2 linked regions of the Homo sapiens genome follow. The protein of the gene in region 2 purifies or fractionates together with the protein of the main gene of each other region. This does not show direct contact. Each region holds a gene or a part of one and is shown on either strand. Other genes may lie near its edges. The genes, in order: SEPTIN14 and FIGLA.

Region 1 (3,823 bases), on a different chromosome or scaffold from region 2:
ATGTTGTTGATTCATTATTATTTTTTTACTAGTGGAAAATGAAAATCACTGTGACTTCGTTAAGCTCCGAGATATGCTTCTTTGTACCAATATGGAAAATCTAAAAGAAAAAACCCACACTCAGCACTATGAATGTTATAGGTACCAAAAACTGCAGAAAATGGGCTTTACAGATGTGGGTCCAAACAACCAGCCAGTTAGGTGAGTAAAAATATTGCTAGCACAACCAAATGGATAATTTAGGAGTCCCTACAAACACAAGGTATGATAATTTGGATATGAGAATAATTATACTTCTCCCATCTTGAGCCATCATAAAGAAAACACCTGAATGTTAGGTGTTTTTATGATCTTTTGACGAAGGTAGAGATAGTAGGAACAATATAATGCGAGATCTCATTTTTATGCTGAAATATGTGTATTCAATATGTATATATGCTGAAATGTATATTGATGAAAAAACCCAGTATTTTGTTCCATTTTTTGTATTTATATGAAATGTATCTGTATTATGTGAAAGAAAGGATAGGCCGGGCGCTGTGGCTCATGCCTGTAATCCCAGCACTTTGGGAGGCTGAGGCGGGCGGATCATCTAAGGTCAGGTATTTGAGAGCAGCCTGGCCAACATGGTAAAACCCTGTGTCTACTAAAAATACAAAAAGTAGCCGGGCATGGTGGCACACGCCTGTATCCCAGCCACTTGGGAGGCTGAGGCAGGAGAATCGCTTGAACCCTGGAGGCGGAGGTTGCAGTGAGCTGAGATCACCTCACTGCACTTCCAGCGTGGCGGACTGAGCAAGACTCCATCTTAAAAAAAAAAAGAAAAAAAAAGAAAGGATAAAGAAAAAGATGGAAAAATATTAGCAAAGTTTGACAAAAGACATTAAGAAGAGTTTGATGGAGGAACCAGCTGAAAAGCAGTAGTGCAGCATCCTGGAAGTTAAATGAGAAAAGTTTGAGAGCAGGTGTTTGCTCTAACTTGAAGAATAGAGCCGGGTGCAGTGGCTCCCGCCTGTAATCCCAGCACTTTGGGAAACCGAGACAGGCAGATTACCTGAGGTCAGGAGTTTAAGATCAGCCTGGCCAACATGGTAAAGCTCCGTCCCTACTAAAAATACAAAAAAAATTAGCTGGGCGTGGTGGCGGGTGCCCGTAATCCCAGTTAACTCGGGAGGCTGAGGCAGGAGAATCGCTTGAACCTGGGCAGCAGAGATTGCAGTGAGCTGAGATCGTGCCACTGCACTCCAGTCTGGGCGACAAAGAGAGACTCTGTCTCAAAAAAAAAAGAAGAATAGGACTTGTGTTGCAAAAACATGGCACTGTAGTGTATATAATCTAGTTATATCATTCATTGTTCTTTGTAGACACCCAAAATTTAACTATCTTAAATGAATGATGATATTTTGAAAGACTTTTTGCTTTATTTTAGAGGATTTTTGAAAATCGTCTCATACATTAGAGGTTTCCCTGAATGTTATTGTCAAAAGATATGAAAATGTATGATATCCTGGAAAGTGGTGGGGATAAGAATTCACTCATATAAGTGTTGGAAAATTCTAGTATTCTTTACATATACTGTCTATATACTCTGATCTTAAGTATTGTGCCTTGGTTTTTACATCTTATGATATGGAAATTTCCATTTTGTGCTGCTAAACATGAGAGAATGTTGGTAAATTTCCTTATATAGGATGTAACATACAATATATATTTTTTACATGTTTATACTAGTGTGTTTTTATTTTTCATTTTATTTTATTTTTTTATGATGGAGTCTTACTCTGTCTCCCAGGCTGACGTGCAGTGGCACGATTTTGATTCTCTGCAAACTCCGCCTCCTGGGTTCAAGCGATCCTCCTACCTCATTTTAATATAAGACTAAGAAAACATTTCTCTTTAGTTTTCAAGAAATCTTTGAAGCCAAAAGACAAGAGTTCTATGATCAATGTCAGAGGGAAGAAGAAGAGTTGAAACAGAGATTTATGCAGCGAGTCAAGGAGAAAGAAGCAACATTTAAAGAAGCTGAAAAAGAGGTTAGTACTGACAGTTTGATATAATTTGTATTAATTTTTAGGTGCCCTATTAATTTGGGGGTTTTAATCTCAAGAGTTTACTTGATGTTTTTGGAGGATACTTGCTATTTTTCAAAAAGTAGCTTTTTACCATGTAGACTTGAATATAGCCTTTACAAAATTATAGTCTGTAGTGTTTTTTCTAGAGAACTTAATTTTCCCATTTAAATAACCCTGAAGATAATTTTATAAAAATTATGTTTTATTTATAATTTAAATTTTCATGCATAAAGTTTAATTTGTGACAAACCCAAGCTATTTACTCTGAGAAGAGTCTTGTACTGTCTAATGCTATTAATGCACTAGAAAATTGTCTTCACTTTTATAAAAAGCAAATGTTGACTAATGCTGGCCTTGATTAATGAGAAAATTTTAAGTTGGTAAATTATGTTATTCCATGCCATTTCTAATAAAATGGGGAAAAAAGCTATTAATATCGTTTTAATTATTTGCCACAAATACGTTTTTGGTGAAGACATATTTTTGAAACCATAATTTCTTTCTCTCAAGTGTAGGTGGCTTTAGTTTAAGAACATTTAGTTTAATTAGGTAAATTGGAACATAAACTTCCTTTTTCATAAGAACAGAATAGTAGTAATTAGGTGCTATAGGCCAGATGTCTCATTCAAAGACAGTTGAATTATAAGTAATAAAAATTCCAGCCGGGTGCGGTGGCTCACACCTATAATCCCAGCACTTTGGGAGATGGAGGCGGGCGGATCCCCTAAAGCCAGGAGTTCAAGACCAGCCTGGCCAACGTGGTGAAACCCCGTCTCAACTAAAAATATAAAAATTAGCTGGGCATGGTGCTGCATGCCTATAATTCCAGCTACTCGGGAGGCTGAGGTAGGAGAATCGCTTGAACCCAGTAGGTGGAGGTTGCAGTGAGCCGAGATGGTGCCACTGCCTCCAGCCTGGGCGAGAGTGAGACTCCGTCTCAAAAAAAAAAAACAAAAAAAACCAAACCATTAGCTTAGGTATAAAGGAAAAAGTTTGGATGTATACAAGGGTACGTCATGACATCTAAGGACAAGAGACATAGCTGGATCTCATGAAGACTTTTTTTTTTTTTTTTTTTTTTTTTAGACAGAGTCTTGCTCTGTTACCCAGGTTGGAGTGCAGTGGCGCGATCTGGGCTCACCGCAAGCTCCGCCTCCTGGGTTCACGCCATTCTCCTGCCCCAGCCTCCCGAGTAGCTGGGTCTACAGGCGCTCACCACCGTGCCCAACTAAATTTTTTTTTTTTTTTTTGTATTTTTAGTAGAGATGGGGTTTCACCGTGTTAGCCAGGATGATCTCGATCTCCTGACCTCGTGATCCGCCTGCCTCGGCCTCCCAAAGTGCTGGGATTACAGACATGAGCCATCGCGCCTGGCCTCATGAAGACTTAAACCAAAACTAGGAAGTGACCAGAAACCGAAGCAACCATTTAAATTTTCTCTTTCTCTCCCACCTCACTTCCCTTAGTTATGAACCTTATTCCTGTACGTCTGCTTCTTTTTTCTTTCTCTCTGGAGATTAGTTTCTTTTCCATATCTCAACTATGTGTTCTCTTAGGGTTGATTACATGTCTTGATTATTGTCAATTAATGCTGCAATAAACATGAAAGTGTAGATATCTCTTTGACATACTGATTTTATTTCCTTTGAACACATAACTATTAGTGGGGTTGCTGAACCATATGGTTATTCTATTTTCAGTTGCTTAATGAATACCCATATTTTTCATAATAGCTGTACTGATTTACTTTT
Region 2 (3,823 bases):
TTGAGTGAGTAACTGGGACTACAGGTGCCCGCCACCACGCCTGATTTTTAGTAGCAATGGCGTTTCACCATGTTGGCCAGGCTGGTCTCGAACTCCTGACCTCAGGTGATCCGCCCACCTCGGCCTCCCAAAGTGCTGGGATGACAATTGTGAGCCACTGCGCCTGGCCCCACTCTTTTGTTGTTGTTGCTTTTAGTCATTCCATGTCAGCTCATGTAGTAGCAACAGGAATTCTGTCTCCTATGGGTTGACTGGCCAGCGAAATCTTATATCTCAAGTGGTCAGAATATGAAAATCTACACTGAGCATATGCACAAATGAATCCTAGAACACAATTAATCTAATCAGAAATGGAAGCCAAGGCCGCCCACCACCTCTCTCCCCACCCCTGCCCTGCCCCCACCAGCCAGCAGGAAGCCTGTAGGACCTCAAATCAGAGCACAACATTGGTGAGAGCCAAGTGAGAAAACTCAAAACACTGGCTACAGAGCTAGAATACCTGTGGCTCATTATTGCTCACTAATCAATGTTGATTGCTCATGAGTCAAGAGAAGTTGGTATCTATCCAAGTGACGTGACAGGTATTATGCCAGATACTTTGCTGACATGATATCATTTGGAGTTAGTTATCTTATATACAAGGTAGGTACAATTATTATACCCATTGCTCAGATGGAGAAACTGAGGATTAGAGGCATTTAGTAGCTCATGCAAGATTATACAGCTAGCAAGTGGTAAAACCAGGGTTTAAACCTCAGTAGTCTGTTCCCAGAGCCTACTCTCAACTGCTCGCCTCAACTGCCTCCCTCCAACCACCATCTGTGACTCCACAGCCCCCACTGTCCCTTATATCATACCATGCAACATGTTTGTTACAGCATGCTTACTTCACATTCCTATACACCTTTCTTATTTCAATAGTAATTGTGTTGCAGAGTAGGATAGAGCAGGGGCCTCATTTATGAATACCAGTTCACAGCAAGGGCAAAAAGTCCACTTCTGGACTTGGAGAAGCATGCTGCCACTTCCAGCTGTCTCTTTAGTTGACAAAGTAATAACAGACAATAAACTCCTTTGTTATTTCATTTAAAATGTTGTCTTACAACCAGCACCACCCCCCACCACAAAAAAAAAAAAAAAGTATCACCAAACATGCATCTTTATGTATGGCAAGCTACTTACTTCTTTTTCTGGAGACCATAGAGTCCAGAAAACCTTTTGATGGGTTAAATAGGATCATTTAAAAGATAAACTTAGGTCTGTATTGGGTGGTTCTGGGGTTAAATAGGATCATTTAAAAGATAAACTTAGGTCTGTATTGGGTGGTTCTGGGGTTAAATAGTTTCATTTAAAAGATAAGCTTAGGTCTGTATTGGGTGGTTCTGGAGGAGTTTCCCCTTCCCTGGAGCCGCTTACCAGTTAATTTAGAAACAAAATAATCTCCCAAACTAGTAAACCCCACTGCCCCACCCAAAGGCTTTCATTAAATTATCTTGTTTTAATCATGTTTTAGCATGGAAAAATGACTCATATCTCAAAGTATACATTTTAAGGTTCTGATATCTGTATGGGTATTTAAGAAGGAATATTTTACCAGACTTCTGGTTGGGGAGATAATTTCAGTCGTAGACATCACACTGTGGCGACAAGCGTGTGCTGGCTCACCACTGCCACCATCTGCCCAAGGCCCTTCCTCTTCATTCTTCAAGCCGAAAGCACAGCTGATATGTTGGGTGATGTTTCTTGACAGCTGTCTTGCCGAGGATGTATGTGATTCAGAACTGTTGTTACTATAGCTCTGCTCATCTGGGTCTTGTTTCTGGAAACCATATTTAGTTGTCAAACAGTATAATATGACAGAAAGATTTTGATGACTTAAACTAATATATTTCAAAGTTTTAACTGATGAGGTTTCATTTAAATGATAAGGGCAATGCTTAAGTCATTATGGAGAGAAAAGCATTGTTCAATTGACCGTATTTTGTTCTCCTATCATCTTAAAATGTTATGCAATAGGTAACTGCATTAAAAATATTATGGCATGGAACAGATGGTATGTTTTACAATGAACAAAGCACTTCTGTTACACAATTGACATGCAAGAGAAAACTAAGGTAGCCACCTACACATGTCCAAACACTGTGACCATACCAAAACCCAACCATCCAGTTTGACCAACAGGACAATTCACTCCTGCCATCGCAGAATGTAGCTTCCTAGCAGTCACCTGGCTAGGACTAATGGAGAAGAAAAAAATATTCAAAGGTACTATCATACACCTGGAGATTTCTGCCCCAAATTTCTAGGATAATTGTTTCTTTTCTCTCTAGTATCTCTCCTTCTGTTCCTAAACATGATCAAATTTCTACATAGGAAAGACCTTCACTTGATCTAACAACTTTTCTGCCTTTTTTTTTTTTTTTGGCAGGGGGTGCAGGGAGTGGGGTGGGGGGTGGTTCTTCTTTCCACTCTCGGACTTCTAGGTTTTCTTTTTTTTGGGGGGGGACAGAGTCTCGCTCTGTTGCCAGGCTGGAGTGCAGTGGCGCCATCTCAGCTCACTGCAAGCTCCGCCTCCCAGGTTCACGCCATCCTCCTGCCTCAGCCTCCTGAGTAGCTGGGACTACCGGCGCCTGCCACCACGCCCGGCTAATTTTTTTGTATTTTTAGTAGAGATGGGGTTTCACCATGTTAGCCAGGATGGTCTCGATCTCCTGACCTCATGATCTGCCTGCCTCAGCCTCCCAAAGTGCTGGGATTATAGGCGTGAGCCACCGCGCCTGGCAGACTTCTAGGTTAAATGGACTTGAAGTTTGCCACTTTCCTCTGAATCTGCTTGGATTCCAGATATTTACCAATCATGCACCCTCAATCTCCTCCAAGTTGATGCCCAGCCCAATTCTCTTTCACCTTTCAAGTGCTAGACATGGTGCTTCCCCCAGTCCTGGCCTTCTTCAGCCTCTCTGTAACCTCTCACACTCCTCACCTTTAGTTTCCTAAGGTTCTCTCCTCCTCAACTTTATGACCCCATCTTGTTCCTCTACCTTCTTGCCACATTCTAATGATGATTCCTTCCTCCTACCAACAGAGTTGCTTAGGGCTCATTTCTAAGGCCTTTTCTCTCTTCCTATTTTGTTTCCCCAGATGACTGATTCATTTTCAGCCCATCAATGTTTGCCTTTCCCTGGAACAAGTCCATAAAACCAGTCCACACTTTACTTTGCCTAATGGACACTTCTGAGCTATCTCACTCTCATAATGGTGGTGACATTATGATACTTCACAGTTTACAGGGCCATTTGTGTCATTCCTGCTGAATGGTTGCAAAACCCCATGAGACTGGTATCACCAGACCATTGCTGAGCTCTTCAGTTGGCCTTAGGGAGGGTCTCTCCTAAGAGAGGTTCCTTGGGGAAAAGAAATGCCTCTTCCTTCCTGTGTCCTGTCTGATGTGCATTCTACTGTAGGGAAACAACCAAAGTGCTTTTAGGAAAGCCCCCTCCTATGTCCAGCTGTAGAAATCCTATCAAAGATTCAACAGTCAGGAGCTAGGTGCCCTGGATAGTGACCATAGGCAAGTATAGATGGTCAGGGACTCAACTCTAAAGCTCATGTAGCTCTGGGTTCAAATCCCAGTCCTGACTTTTTCAGAGCTGTATGGCCTTAACTATATTTTGGTTTCCTTCTCTGTCAAATAAGGGTCATAAAAATAGCTTAGAGGTTATAAACCTTAAGTGGAAAGTATACATATATCACTTGGCACAGTGTCTCGTACATAGAAAAGGCCTAATAAATGGTGGCTATCATTATTCTAAAATCTTACACC

What was found.
Region 1: the proteins of FIGLA (region 2) and SEPTIN14 purify together in Homo sapiens (affinity purification with mass spectrometry; one large-scale study listed by BioGRID and IntAct). This does not show direct contact.

The regions. Positions count from the first base shown.
Region 1 is NC_000007.14:55,803,468-55,807,290, reverse strand, and holds part of SEPTIN14 (septin-14), read left to right. Parts: intron 1-32; coding exon 33-201; intron 202-1,900; coding exon 1,901-2,033; intron 2,034-3,823. UniProt on the Homo sapiens protein: Filament-forming cytoskeletal GTPase. Involved in the migration of cortical neurons and the formation of neuron leading processes during embryonic development.
Region 2 is NC_000002.12:70,783,821-70,787,643, forward strand, and holds part of FIGLA (factor in the germline alpha), read right to left. Parts: intron 1,820-3,823; coding exon 1,595-1,819; intron 1-1,594. UniProt on the Homo sapiens protein: Germline specific transcription factor implicated in postnatal oocyte-specific gene expression.